Linked DNA regions of Homo sapiens. The protein of the gene in region 1 purifies or fractionates together with the protein of each later gene. This does not show direct contact. Each region holds a gene or a part of one and is shown on either strand. Other genes may lie near its edges.

Region 1 (3,953 bases):
AGAGAAGGTGGTAGGGCTCCAGCTCTCTGCTGTCATCTCCAGTGATTCTATTCTGGCCCCAACCTTGTGCACCCTGAGCAGCAAAACAAAAACCCTCCCTCAGATCCAGGGAGTGCCTGTCAATGCTAATGCATGCCCCTTGCAGGGGAAGGGGGCTGACCCGCTCCCCAAGCACTTCATCACAGCTTGCTTTCTAAGCACATCCAGAGTTCACCCTCCCTAGGAGAAGTCTCCCCGTCCTGCCCTCTGTCCTCTTTCATCCCCATGGGGAGCAGAGAGAGAGCTCCTGTGTTGCCTCCCTGATCCTTACCATGTCCCACATCAGCGTAGAAGTTAACAGCATGGACTTTGGGTTCCACCGGAGCTTGATTCCATTCTTGAGTGGAATGGAACCTAAGCTACTCCATTCCTTGGTTTTCTGATCTGTAAGATGACGGCAATAATACCAACTGTACCAGATTGTTTTGAGGATTTAAGGAGATGACTACGATGCACAGTGTGACGCATGATGTTGCTGTCATCACCCCAGGTTCCAGCGGCTTGTTTAGAGGCTGTTTCACTCATTTAATTGGAAGCTCCTTGAAGATCAGAATGGTCTTTTCCAGACATTCCCCCTAGGATACTAAGGACACAGTAGATATTCAGTAACTATTTAGGGATGTCTCTTGAATGTATACCCATTTTTATCAGCCACGTTTTTTTCCTTCCAGAAATGCAGGATGTTAATATCTGAGAGGAGCTGCTGTTAGCATGTAGGAAGCACCAGGTGGTGAACAGAGCAGGGGCCTCCCAGTGGGACAGGGGAAGAAGGACACTATGATAAATCGTGTTAATTTTCTAGGCCCCAGTTTCCTTATTGGGAGAATGGAGAGATTGATAGATACCATTACAAGGTTGTGGCGAAGGTTTTCATAAACTATGCTTAACACGCTGCCAAGGACACAGTAAGGGCTGAGAAACAGCAGCTGCTATTATTACTATCAATTTAAGAGTTATTGTTAAAGAAGTGAAACTGAACGCGCTTAGGTGTGCGCTCAAAGCCAGCAACCTGGCTGGGTCCGCACGGAGACAGGCGGGGCAGCGCGGGGAGGGGCCACCGGAAGCCCCACCCCTTTCCTCGCGTCCGGTCGCCCGGGCAACGCGCCACCGCGTCGCAGCCGGAGTGACGCGTGGCCGCCGGCACCCGGAGCTCCTGGGCACACGGCATTGGCAGGGGCCGCTTCGGCAGAGTGATGACTGATGATGAGTCCGAGAGCGTCCTCTCCGACTCCCATGAAGGGTCGGAGCTGGAGCTGCCTGTTATCCAGCTGTGCGGGCTGGTGGAGGAGCTCAGGTACCGCCGCCCGCGCCTGGGGGCCGCCCCTCTTCCTCCTAGGCCCTCCTCTCCGGGCGGCCTCGGACTTGGGGACCAGCATGGAGAAGATCCAAGCCCTCACTGAGCACTGGGGAGACTTTTCCTCTTTACTCCTTACTCCACCACCACTGAGCCAACAAGCTGTTGGTGGAGCTAGAACGGGGTGGTAGGGCGAGGGGATGGGGCCGGTGGTGAGAAGCCCAGAGGGTAATTGGGGAAGTGAGGGTTTCAGCCGGAGGAGTCTCTCTCATGCCAGACGGTGTGCTTAGCCGATCCACAATTCTACAGCAGCAATTTGGACCAGGTGACTTCTAAGCCCTTTTCTGATGCTAAGATTCTATGATAAGGCTGGGCGCGGTGGCTCACGCCTGTAATCTCAGCACTTTAGGAGGCCGAGGCGGACGGATCGCTTGAGGTCAGGAGTTCGAGACCAGCCTGGCCAACATGGTGAAACCCCGTATCTACTAAAGATACAAAAATTAGCCAGGCGTGGTGGCGCGTGCCTGTAATCCCATCTACTCTGGAGGCTGAGGCAGGAGAATCACTTGAACTTGGGAGGCGGAGGTTGCAGTGAGCCGAGATTGTGCCACTGCACCCCAGCCTGGGCAACAGAGAGGGACTAAGTCTCAAAAAAAAAAAAAAAAAAAATTATATGATAAAACTAACACGGCAGCAGAATAGAAAGCAAGCTATTGAGATGGTTTTAGTATGAGGCAATGTGTGCCTGAACCTGGATATAAGCATGGAGATGGACAGTAAAGAATGGCCCGATAGTCTGCGTTTATTTTGTTTTATTTTATTTTGCAGTCTGCTTTATATATTCTACTATAGCAAGTAAATTGGATATAAAGATTCCATGATGTAGTTAAGATTAGTTGTACAACTTACTGGTCTTGCACAGAATATCCTAGCTCTAGCAGCTGAATAGATGTTACTTCTATACATCTACAAATACTTTAGGTCAGAACTGAGGTATTATTACTAACAGCTCTCATTTTTGAGTGTTTCTATGTACCATGCATTTACATATATGATCTTATATGATGACACTGCAACCCTAGGAAGTGGGTAAGGAAACAAAGACGCAGAGGTGAAGTCACTTCCCTAAGTTCACACAGTCAGTGGTAGTGCTGGGATTCAAACTCAGGTGTGACTCCACAGACTACATACACCTGGAGCATGCTCTATGCTGAAAAAGCAAGCTACTTTGATAGATTGTGTTTTCCATTCAGCTTTTTCCACTAGTTTGTTTTGTTTTGTTTTGTTTTTGATACGGAATCTCACTCGCTCTGTCGCCCAGGCTGAAGTACAATGGCATGATCTCGGCTCACTGCAACCTCTGCTTCCCAGGTTCAAGTGATTCTCCTGCCTCAGACCCCTGAATAGCTGGGATTACAGGCACCTGCCACCACACCCAGCTAATTCTTGTACTTTTAGTAGAGATGGGGTTTCACAATGTTGATCAGGCTGGTCTCGAACTCCTGACCTCAGGTGATCCACCTGCCTCGGCTTCCCAAAGTGCTGGGATTACAGGTGTGAGCCACCACACCTGGCCCCACTAGTCTTAAAATTCAGCCAAACAGGAATTATTAAAAGTAATAGCAAAAACTGCAATTACTTTTGTACCAACCTAATAGATTAATAACACATGAAAACATCAAAGCTGTTCTCTCTCTCATATACATATACATACATATGTGTGTGTAACACACACACACATACACACGTATGAGAAGTTAAGAAGTTAAAAAGGTTATAACCTTGGCATATACAGGATAAACTAGGTATGTTATCTCTTCCTCTGTTCAAAGTTTTCCAGAGTTTATGATAAACTTCTGGTTGATACTTTTCATCTATTGGGTACTGAAAATAAAAGAACTGAAAAACAAACCAAAGGAAACATCTGAAGATTGTGGGTGTGTTTAACTTCAAGAATATAGTAATTCAGGTTGGGCACAGTGGCTATTATTGCCTATAATCTCAGCACTTTGGGAAACCAAGGTGGGAGGATCACTTTAGGCCAGGAGTTCATGGCCAGCCTTGACAACATAGCAAGATACCACCTCTACAAAAAAAATTATAAATTAGCCAGGCATGGCATTGTGCACCTGCAGTCCTAGCTACTTGGGAGGCTGAGGCAGGAGGATTGCTTGATCCCAGGAGTTCCAGGTTACAGTGAGTGCAACAGAGTAAGACCCTGTCTCTTAAACAAATAAAATATATATATGTATATATATAATATATAGTAATTCAGAAATAATCTCCCACATGGGTTCAATGATACTTGAAGATGAAACCTATGAGAATTTTCAATGTAATACTAGTGTTCTGAATTTTGTGGCTCATTAAACATATTAATAAAAATATCAAATATATAGCACTTACTATGTGTCAGGCACTGTGCCAGAGGCTTTGTCTTCCTTATTGGAACCCTAAAAGTTAAGTGCTATTCTTAATACCCATTTTATAGGTGAGGAAACTAAGGCACCAAGGGGCTAACGGGTTTTGCAGGTCTACTAGTTATTAAACACTAGTTATTTGAGGTTTAAACTCTTATTACTAGAACTTACTCAGGTACCCTGTCTTGCAGCTATGTAAA
Region 2 (3,500 bases), on another chromosome or scaffold:
CGTGGATTTTGTGCTGATGCTGAAAGGAGTGAGGGACTTGGGACTCATCTGGAATATTGTCCTGGGCCAGATATAACATTAGACAAGTATTTTCAGGACATTGCAAGAGTGATGGCCCTTTCTTAGTGGGAGAGCTGCCTTGAAAGAGTCCATTGTCCTGACTTGGGGGTTTAGTGACGTTGGACTGCAGTGAGACAGAGTTAAAGCAGTGCTTCCCCAAATTTAATGTGTAGTGGGGTGGCACACACCTGTAGTCTCAGCTACTTGGAAGACTGAGGCAGGAGGACCGCTTGAGCCCACGAAGCTGAGGTCAACCTGGGCAACATAGTAAGACCCTGTCTCTAAAAAATAAACAAATACAGCCAGGCGCGGTGGCTCATGCCTGTAATCCCAGCACGTTGGGAGGCTGAGGTGGGCGGATCCCTTGAGGTCAGGAGTTTGAGACCAGCCTGGCCAACATGGTGAAACGCCGTCTCTACTAAAAAATACAAAAATTAGCCGGGCGTGGTGGCTCGTACCTGTAATCCCAGCTACTCGAAGGCTGAGGCAAGAGAATTGCTTGAACCTGGGATGGGGAGGTTGCAGTGAGACGAGATCGTGCCACCGCGCTCCAGCCTGGGTGACATAGCAGACTCTTTCAGAAAGAGAGAGAGAGAGAGAGAGAGAGAAAGAGAGAAAGAAAGAAATTTAAAAATAAATATAATGTATATTTCGAATCACCTGAGGGTCTTGTGAAAATGCCGATACCGACTTCAGTAGGTCTGGAGTAAGGTCTGAGATTCTGCAATTCCAGCAAGTCCACAGGTGATGGTGACGCTCTAGGTCTCAGGACAACTGTTTGAGTAGCCAAGAGTATATGCTGTCATGAAGGGCTAGGAGACAACTCTGGATTGGTCCATTATCCTGAGCAGAGATTGGTCATTGTCCTACCATGGGGTGGGAAAAAACCTTGGATTGGGAGGTTGGACTGTACCCCTCTCATGCACAGTGGGAAGGGGCCAGAGGGCCTGACTCTTCCCTCACCTGCCCATGGCCCCAGATCCTGGCATATGGCGACATGAACCACGAGTGGGTGGGGAACGACTGGCTGCCCAGCCTGGGGCTGCCCCAATACCGCAGCTACTTCATGGAGTCGCTGGTGGACGCTCGAATGTTAGATCACCTTAACAAGAAGGAGCTCCGGGGCCAACTCAAGATGGTGGACAGCTTTCACAGGTGGGGGCTGCCTGGCCAGTGGGGACAGTCCAAAGGGAAGCCCCACCCCAGAGAGTCTTTGGCCAATAGGATTGGCCATGGGAGATTCCCAGGCTTATCTTGGCCCTTTTAGCCTGAGTTCTCAGGAAATCCTGACTCTGTGCTCCTTTCACCAATGAGATGGTCCACAGGAAAAGTTCAGATCCTGAAATGGCTTGGCTAGTTAACCCTGGACCCCTTCCAGGCTGGCCAGTAGGAAGTGCCTATTATTGAAAATGCCTCACCTCCTGAGGGGGTCAACAGTCAATAGAACTTATCAGCTCCCCACCCTTTCCAAGAAGAGCGCAGCCAGTGGGGAGGGACCCGTAGGAGCAGCAGTCTAGGGGACTGGAAAGCTCATCCGTGACTCCACTTCCCCTGCTGCTCAGGGTGAGTCTACATTATGGGATTATGTGCCTGAAACGGCTCAACTATGACCGGAAGGACCTGGAGCGGAGGCGGGAAGAAAGTCAGACCCAGATCCGAGGTGAGTAGAGCCTAAGGGTCCCTTTGGGAGCCAGGTGGAGGGCGTGGAGCTGGATGGGGAGGAGAGGGGGTAGGGGGAGACCGGAGAAGCAAATTGGCACCATAACCGTGGGGGTGGAGCCAGCGTGGGGGGCGTGGCCCGAAGAGACCAAATGGAGGTGGAGGTATGGGCTAAACTGAACTCTCCAGGCCACGGGAGGGGCACGGCTGAGGGTCCCTTCCGTCCCCAGACGTGATGGTGTGGTCCAATGAGCGGGTCATGGGTTGGGTGTCCGGGCTGGGCCTGAAGGAATTTGCCACGAACCTCACGGAGAGCGGGGTACACGGGGCACTGCTCGCCCTGGACGAGACCTTCGACTACTCCGACCTGGCCTTGCTCCTGCAGATCCCCACGCAGAATGCACAGGTGAGCTGCCGCTGGGCCCGGAGCATGCTGGGCGTCCCCACCTCGCAGACTGCACGCTCCAACCGCCCCCTCCACCTCCTCTTTCCAGGCCCGGCAGCTTCTGGAGAAGGAATTCAGCAACCTTATCTCCTTAGGCACAGACAGGCGGCTGGACGAGGTGGGCGCGGCAACAGCTCAGAGGGCTCTGCTCCCAGCGGCTCCTCGAGAGGCTGAGCTGAGGGGGCGGGGCCTGACTATTAATGGTCACGGTTGGAGGCGGGGCCAGGAGAGGGGCGGGGTTAAAGGAGAGGTGAGACCCGGAGAGGGGTGGAGTCAAAGGAAGGGGCGGAGTCAGACAAGGCAGGAGTCCCTCACCGGCTGTCCGGCTCCTATACCTAGGACAGCGCCAAGTCTTTCAGCCGCTCCCCATCCTGGCGGAAGATGTTCCGGGAGAAGGACCTCCGAGGCGTAACTCCCGACTCAGCTGAGATGTTGCCCCCCAACTTTCGTTCGGCTGCAGCGGGAGCCCTGGGCTCTCCGGGGCTCCCTCTCCGCAAGCTGCAGCCAGAAGGTGGGGGGCTCCCAAATGCGACAGCCCTTCCTCGCTTCCCTAGGGTGGGGCATGGACCACCTCAGTAGTCCGGGTTCTGGAATGGCCTAGTCCTTTCTCGCCCACCCCTGAGGAATGGACTGCTCCAACGTTCCGGACTCCCCCGTCAGGATGAAATGGATAAATCCCACTCCCCCTTCCCAGGGCGGGAGTGAACTCGCCCAATGCGAGTTTGAGTCCTTGGCTGCGGGGAAGGGAGGGAAACCCATGTGGAGCCCGGCGATCGTTGTGACATCGGGAAGGGAAGTCCAAAGGGAGGAATCCTGGAGAGGAACAGGGAGGAGGGTGCTCCAGGCTGAACCGCTGCTCGCTCTCCCTCCAGGCCAGACTTCTGGGAGTTCCCGGGCAGACGGCGTTTCGGTCCGGACCTATTCCTGCTAGTGCAGGCCTCCAGGTGAGGACCGTGCTGGGCGACCTTGGGGGTGCGGGGCGGCACGGTGGATCTTCACTGCTCCACGCGCTGCCCGGCGTCATGCAGGTGACCTCACTCGGACGGAAGAATCTTCCCGAGGCTGGGCTGTTCCCTCTCCTGCCCGGACTGTGGCCTCGCCGGGGAGAGCGGGCGGGGGAGCTCGCGCCGAGGACTGGACCATCTGTACAGACCAGCGGGAGTGCGCGCGCCCGCCTCGCACAGGGCCGGGGCCTGGACCAAACCACATGAACTGGACTGAGAGGGGGAAGAAGCGGGGAGGAAGAAATCCCGCCCCAAACGTCCGCTTTCCTTTTCTCTACTTTGTAATTTATTGATCAGTTTCTGTTGGGAGACGGGTGTCCTTTACCCGCGGG
Region 3 (3,500 bases), on another chromosome or scaffold:
TTACCATGTTGGCCAGGCTGGTCTCAAACTCCTGACCTCAGGTGAGCCACCCGCCTTGGCCTCCTAAAAGTGCTGGGATTACAGGTGTGAGCCAATGCCCCCAGCCAACTTAATGTCTTTTTTTTTTTTTTTTTTTTTTTTGAGACAGAGTCTCATTCTGCCGCCCAGGCTGGAGTGCAATGGCGAGATCTCGGCTCACTGCAAGCTCCGCCTCCTGGGTTCACGCCATTCTCCTGCCTCAGCCTCCCGAGTAGCTGGGACTACAGGCACCCACCACCACACCCAGCTAATTTTTTGTATTTTTTAGTAGAGACGGGGTTTCACCGTGTTAGCCAGGGATGGTCTCGATCTCCTGACCTTGTGATCCGCCCGCCTTGGCCTCCCAAAGTGCTGGGATTACAGGCGTGAGACACCGCGCCCAGCCAACTTAATATCTTTTGTGCAGCTTCCTCATCTATGAAATGGGGACAACAGTGGGCCCTCACCCCACAGGGAGTTATGGTGACGTGATGCATGTCAATGGCAGGGATATGTCACAGCCGACATTTATTGAGTACTTACTAACATTCTCTGTGGCAAACCAAAGGAAACAAAGCGGAGAGAAGCATACTGTGTCCTCCTTTGAACTCCTGGGCACTTGCTAAACAGTGTGTCAGTCTTCCTGGCGTATCATAACTTTTTCTTAACTCAAGAGCAGAATCTAGGTCTTTTTTTTTTTCTACTAGTCTCGCTCTAAGGTGCGCCCAGGTTCAAGCAATAATCCTGCTTCAGCCTCCTGAGTAGCTGGGATTACAGGCGCCTGCCACTACGCCCAGCTAATTTTTTGTATTTTTAGTAGAGATAGGGTTTCACCATGTTGGTCAGGCTGGTCTTGAACTTCTGACCTCAGGTGATCCACCCACCTCGGCCTCCCAAAGTGCTGTGATTACAGGCGTGAGCCACCGCGCCCAACAAATCTGGGTCTTTTTCTCTCAACTTGCCTACAGGGTATAGTAGGCCATCTTGGGTTGATCATGGGCTCAAAACAGTTTGTAGAAGGAAAGAATGCCACTTTCTAGTCATTATTGCCTGTGGGGCCCCATATGTGCTGCCTGCATTACCCTGGGCTGCACACTGCTGTCTGAAGCACTGAAGCCCATCACCCCTTTCTTCACCCCGCAAACCCGTCCCTCTCTGGCCCGAAGTCGTTGGAGCCTTTCCTGACCACCGCATTGCTCTGAGCTGCTGCTGCCTTCCTGCTTCACTTTCTGTGCTTCTGATGTATTCCCGTCCCCAGGCTTCCCAGGTGGCTTCCCCTCTTCCCCTGGGGGCTGATTTCCACTGAGCAGCCAACCGCAGCCTCTGGCCACAAGGAGAGCGGAGCACAGGTAGGGCAAGAAGACAGAAGGCCCCGGTGGTGAGTGGAGGGCTTGGTGGTCCCTGGACACCCCTCACTGGCCACATTCTCCTTGCAGGAGCAGGAAGCCGCCTACCACCATGAGCAGCACGCTGTCACCCACAGACTTTGACAGCTTGGAAATCCAGGGCCAGTACAGTGACATCAACAACCGCTGGGACCTTCCTGACTCGGACTGGGACAATGACAGCAGCTCGGCCCGCCTCTTTGAGAGGTCTCGCATTAAGGCTCTGGCAGGTGAGGTCAGAGGAGGGTCGAGGTGGGGGGATGCTGGAGGAGGCTTTGTCAGCTCGTCATGAAGAGCCCTTTAACTTTATGGGAAGACTGACTTTTCTTTCTAAGTGGGAGACCCAGAGCACTCTATCAATTCCCTGGTCCCCACATCCAGCCTCAAGAATAGGCTCCAGGCCATTCAGAACTTTCCCCAGCTCTTCCCCCCAAGCATAGAGACGCTTCACTGGCCCCTGGACTGGCTGAGCTGACTAAAACAGCTTCCCTCTCTGGCCTCAGCCCCCGGGTCATGTCCCTTCATCCTTCGGCACTCTCGCTCTTGCCACTCCTTTCTCCGCCTACCTCTCCCTTACCTGTCATGCCCTTGTTGTGTCTTCTTTGATTTCCACTGTCATTTCCCACACCTGTTCCCAGTCTATTATTCCCCTCTGCTCCCTCTCCACCTGTTCCTTCCACCTGCCACCTGTTACTCCCATTATCTCATCTGCCTGTTCCCTGAAGCAGGTTCCCTCCACCCGCTGCTGCTGGTTTCTGCAGCCGCCCATTCTCCCTGGTGTGCTCTCTGCCTGCCTTGGCTCCTACTCTTCCCTGCAGCCCAGGGCCTGGGCTCTCCGCTCTGAGCGGAAACTCGTCCAACGGCCTCCCTGTCTTCCGGGGGAGGAGTTGTCATGGCAACAAGAGTGCGGCTGCCACCTGACACCACCAGTGGCTGGCATGGGGCTGACTCACCCACACACCCCAAGGCCACCTACCCCGTCTGGCTTCCTCCTCCATCCCACTCTTGTCATTGCCATTGACCTGCTGGCTGCCCAGCCCAGCCCAACCCAACCCAGTCTGAGGGGTCCCAGCTACTCTCACCGAGAGGTGGTGCTCCGAGTGGGGGTGGGGGTTGGCCACTAGAAGAAGAGAGACTCCAAGGGGGAGGTTCCCAAACCTGGCCACATGTTTTACAGGATCACCCAGGGATGTTTTTTACAAATACAGGTTTCCAAGCCCCTCCCTAGACACAATAAGTTAGAATCTTGGTCCAGAACTCAGGATTTTTCAAAAGCTCCCCAAGTGATTCTTTTGAGCCAGCTCAGCACCAGTCTGAGGACCCCCTTGTGGCAGCCATAGCTTCCCAGGACCCCTTCTCATTTTCTCCTGGGCCTCTCTGTCCTTCTGGTTGGGTCTTCAGGCCGGCTGTGAAACACTCCTACCAGTGTGTCTATACATCAGAGAAGACAGAAGGTGTGGGTTATGGAGAATGTCATGTTTGGGGAAAATGTTCCTGGCACTCTGGTTTTGGATTCATGTAGCCTCTAGAACTGTCATGATGTCTATGTGTGTACAACATGTGCCACCCACCATGTTTGCACACATGACAAATGCCATCCAGGACTGTCACCATGCCTGTGTACATAGGACACATGCCTCCCAGGACTCTCACCATGCCTGTGTACATAGGACACATGCCACCCAGGACTGTCACCATGTCTGGCTGCACATAACTTGGGCCACCCAGCACTGTCACCATGTCTGTGCACACATCTGTGTGACCTCGTGCTCTCATTGGGTGTTTATCTCCACCACTGAACTGGGCTCTCCTGAAGAGGCAGCTCTGCATGGGATTTGCCTAGCACTGTGTCTCCAGCCAGTAGGTGTCAAATAAACACTGAATGAATGAAGATGAGGAAGGGCAAGTGTAGGCTGCACATGACAAACGCTGAAGCCCAGAGGAAGGGCGCCTGGTATATGTGCCCAGCAGCGGGGCGTCTGGGGGCAGGGATGGCCTGGTGGAGGATGGCCCTGGTGGGCCAGAGGGCAGGGAAGGGGCTGGCACTGGAGGTGGTGATAAGCAAGTGGAAAGGATGGTAACAGCCCTCGTTTCACA
Region 4 (3,500 bases), on another chromosome or scaffold:
GGCGGAGGTTGCACTGAGCTGAGATCGCGCCACTGCGCTCCAGCCTGGGTGACAGAGCAAGACTCCATCTCAAAAAACAAAACAAAACAAAACAAAACAAAAACTCAACCGTAACATTGTTTAAGCCTCTGAAACAGAGCCCTTTTCTTTTCCTCTTCAAGAAAAAATGGCTGGAGTGATTTGGCCTGCTACAGAGGAAACTGGTATTCTCTGTACTTGGTACAAGGTTCTAGCACCTGGCTGTTACTACTCCTGGGTGGGCCATAATTTTAAGAGGAAGTGGACCTCTGCCATCATCTTATCCTGGGGTTTTCCACCTGCGCTGCTCAGAACCTGTACTTGATTCAGCTAGAACAACTCTGGCTTTTATGTATATGTTACTATATATTTATGAGTATATATTTTCCATTGTCCCTTGGAATCCATGGAGGATTGGTTCCAGGACCCCCTACTGATACTTAAATCATTAGATACTCTAGTTCCTTCTATAAAATGGTGCAGTATTTGCATATAACCTGAGCCCATACTCCCATATACTCTATTTATTTGAGGGTTTTTTTTTTCTCTTCCCCACCCTCTCCATATTTGTTTTTTAAGACAGTCTCATTCTGTTACCTATGCTGGAGTGCAGTGGTGCAATCATGGTTCACTGTAGCCTCGACCTCCTGGGCTCAAGCAATCCTCCTGCCTCAGCCTCCTGAGTAGCTGAGACCACAGGGACACATCACTATGCCTGGCTAATTTTTTACATTTATTTATTTATTTATTTTATTATTTTGGTAGAGATGGGGTCTCTGCATGTTTCCCAGGATCTGGGCTCCCATCTCCTTAACAAATTAAAATGAAGGCGGAGAGAGTAGAACCAGTGAGCCTTTGTGGAGGCTCTATATAAAGATGAGACTTGGGCATTTATCACCTTTGTTTTCTGTCTCTTCCCATCAGGAGAAGTTGCCCCAGTGCAAGGCACTGCATTCGACCTGAGAAAGCCAGTGGAGCTTGGAAAACACCTGCAGGACTTCCATCTCAATGGTTTTGACCACAATTTCTGTCTGAAGGGATCTAAAGAAAAGCATTTTTGTGCAAGGTCAGGTACTTTTCACTTCCTGAGTCTGTAAGGAAGAAATGACACCAAGTCCTATTTTCCTTTGGAGCTTTTCCTCTGGCCATATCAATAGCATTTACTATGCTACAAGTGACCCAATACCACATCCCATATTTTCTCAAAGCTCCCATGGCACAGGTGAGCTCTGTAGAATTTATCCCAGTCCCCCACCTGCCATTACCCCTATTCCCCCTGCTTGGCACCCGCTCTCTCCCTCTCTGCCTGTTCTTTAAGGCCCATTTTCTGTTAGAAGCCTTAACTCTTCCTAGTGAAGTCACCTCGGCTGTCACTGAACTTCCAGAGCCTTTGTGCTTTCTCGATCTGTGACTTATGCCTGCCTACTCCATGGCCAGTTGGAGGCTAGGCATCTCCTGCAGCACTCACCGCCTCCAGCCTTGACCGATAGACACTTGTGTGCACGCTCTCGCCTTCTCACCAAATCCCAGTTCCTCATGCCATTTCATCTTTGTGAAGCCCTACCTCTACCCCAACACCTAATATCATCCTTGGCACTAGCAAATAATGAATAAATGTTTGCAGAATTAACAGTTTTGTGTGTGTGCGTGTGTGTGACGGAGTCTTGCTCTGTCGCCCAGACTGGAATGCAGTGGTGCGATCTAGGTTTACTGCAACCTCCGCCTCCCGGGTTCAAGTGATTCTCCTGCCTCAGCCTCCTGAGTAGCTGGGATAACAGGCACGTGCCACTATGCCCAGCTAATTTTTGTATTTTTAGTAGAGATGGGGTTTCACAATGTTGGTCAGGCTGGTCTTGAACTCCTGACCTTGTAATCCACCCACCTCGGCCTCCCAAAGTGCTGGGATTACAGGTGTAAGCCACTGCACCCGGTCAACAGTTTTTAAATAAAGCAGAAAAAATGACTCAAACCAAATAGTGACAGAAAGAAGATCAAAGACCTTCTCCGGGCTGGGCGTGGTGGCTCATGCCTGTAATCCCAGCACTTTAGGTGGCTGAGGTGGGCAGATCACTTGAGGTCAGGAGTTTGAGACCAGCCTCGCCAACATGGTGAAACGCCGTCTCTACTAAAAATATAAAAATTAGCCAGGCATGGTGGTGGGCACCTATAATCTCAGCTACTCAGGAGGCTGAGGCAGGAGAATCACTTGAACCCAGGGGGTGGAAGTTGTAGTGAGCCGAGATCACGCCACTGCACTCCAGGCTAGGCAACAGAGCAAAACTCCATCTCAAAAAAAAAAAAAGAATCTCAGGCCAGGTGCAGTGGCTCTCATGCCTGTAATCCCAGCACTTTTGGAGGCTGAGGTGGTCAGATCACCTGAGGTCAGTAGTTCAAGACCAGTTGGGCCAACATGATGAAACCCCGACAATACTAAAAGTACAAAAAATTAGCCGGATGTGGTGGCAGGTACCTGTAATCCCAGCTACTCTAGAGGCTGAGGCAGGAGAATTGCTTTAACCAAGGGGGCGGAGGTTGCAGTGAGCCAAGATCGCACCACTGCACTCCTCCCTGGGTGACAGAGCCAGACTCCATCTCAAAACAAACAAACAAACAAAAATTAGCTGGACATGGTAGTGCGCACCTGCAGTCCCAGCTACTGGGGAGCTGAAGTGGGAGAATTGCTTGAGCCCGGGAGGCTGAGGTTGCAGTGAGCCGAGGTCGCGCCACTGCACTCCAGCCTGGGCAATAGAGAAAGACTCTATTTCAAAAAAAAAAAAAAAAAAAAAAAGAATCTCAGCCTCTCCAGGACCTTCCTCTCTCCAACCTGGCTGCTGCCTTCCTCCCTACTCCCCAGCTGGCAGGAGTGAGTCTGTTTTGTGATGCCCCAAAGAAGCTACTGAGGATCCTGAAAGCCACCTGCTCATGCCTTGCCTTTGAGACTGGAAGAATTTTCCATCATGCTCTTCCTACCTTCATCTCCTCCTTATATCTTGTCCCTGCTCTGTGGCTGGGTCTGATTCCTGTCTCAAAGCCGCTTCCCAGCTTCTACTCCTCCCCACCTGCTTTTCTGCCCTGGACTCATGTTGTTTGTATTTCTTACCAGGGTGCATCATGCTGCAAGCGGGCGGGTACTAGAAGTATACACCACCCAGCCCGGGGTCCAGTTTTACACGGGCAACTTCCTGGATGGCACATTAAAGGGCAAGAATGGAGCTGTCTATCCCAAGCACTCCGGTTTCTGCCTGGAGACTCAGAACTGGCCTGATGCAGTCAATCAGGTAATGCCACAGGCTGGCTTTTCAGAGTAGAGTTGTGTCCAAGGTCACACTGTACGACAGAGTTCACTACACTCGAATCAGCTTGTATGATTCAAAAGTTCATGCTTTGTTTGTTTGGTTTGTTTTTTGAGACAGAGTCTCACTCTTGTCGCCTAGGCTGTAGTGCAGTGGCACGATCTCAGCTCACTGCAACCTCCGCCTCCT

The links. Proteins that work in one complex are often made in the same cells at the same time.
Region 2: the proteins of CFAP263 (region 1) and PPFIA3 purify together in Homo sapiens (affinity purification with mass spectrometry; one large-scale study listed by BioGRID and IntAct). This does not show direct contact.
Region 3: the proteins of CFAP263 (region 1) and SPTBN2 purify together in Homo sapiens (affinity purification with mass spectrometry; one large-scale study listed by BioGRID and IntAct). This does not show direct contact.
Region 4: the proteins of CFAP263 (region 1) and GALM purify together in Homo sapiens (affinity purification with mass spectrometry; one large-scale study listed by BioGRID and IntAct). This does not show direct contact.

The regions. Positions count from the first base shown.
Region 1 is NC_000016.10:58,248,783-58,252,735, forward strand, and holds the start of CFAP263 (cilia- and flagella-associated protein 263), read left to right. Parts: upstream 1-1,153; 5' UTR 1,154-1,232; coding exon 1,233-1,333; intron 1,334-3,944; coding exon 3,945-3,953. UniProt on the Homo sapiens protein: Component of centriolar satellites contributing to primary cilium formation. In complex with CFAP263, acts as a regulator of ciliary beating that connects radial spoke 3 (RS3) to the inner dynein arm (IDA) and the nexin-dynein regulatory complex (N-DRC).
Region 2 is NC_000019.10:49,147,044-49,150,543, forward strand, and holds part of PPFIA3 (liprin-alpha-3), read left to right. Parts: intron 1-1,039; coding exon 1,040-1,215; intron 1,216-1,622; coding exon 1,623-1,720; intron 1,721-1,949; coding exon 1,950-2,125; intron 2,126-2,213; coding exon 2,214-2,282; intron 2,283-2,503; coding exon 2,504-2,675; exon of another isoform or gene 2,676-3,036; coding exon 3,037-3,095; 3' UTR 3,096-3,108; exon of another isoform or gene 3,109-3,192; 3' UTR 3,193-3,500. UniProt on the Homo sapiens protein: May regulate the disassembly of focal adhesions. May localize receptor-like tyrosine phosphatases type 2A at specific sites on the plasma membrane, possibly regulating their interaction with the extracellular environment and their association with substrates.
Region 3 is NC_000011.10:66,719,217-66,722,716, reverse strand, and holds part of SPTBN2 (spectrin beta chain, non-erythrocytic 2), read left to right. Parts: exon of another isoform or gene 1-1,276; 5' UTR 1,277-1,367; intron 1,368-1,454; 5' UTR 1,455-1,476; coding exon 1,477-1,633; intron 1,634-3,500. UniProt on the Homo sapiens protein: Probably plays an important role in neuronal membrane skeleton.
Region 4 is NC_000002.12:38,728,614-38,732,113, forward strand, and holds part of GALM (galactose mutarotase), read left to right. Parts: intron 1-942; coding exon 943-1,084; intron 1,085-3,121; coding exon 3,122-3,296; intron 3,297-3,500. UniProt on the Homo sapiens protein: Mutarotase that catalyzes the interconversion of beta-D-galactose and alpha-D-galactose during galactose metabolism.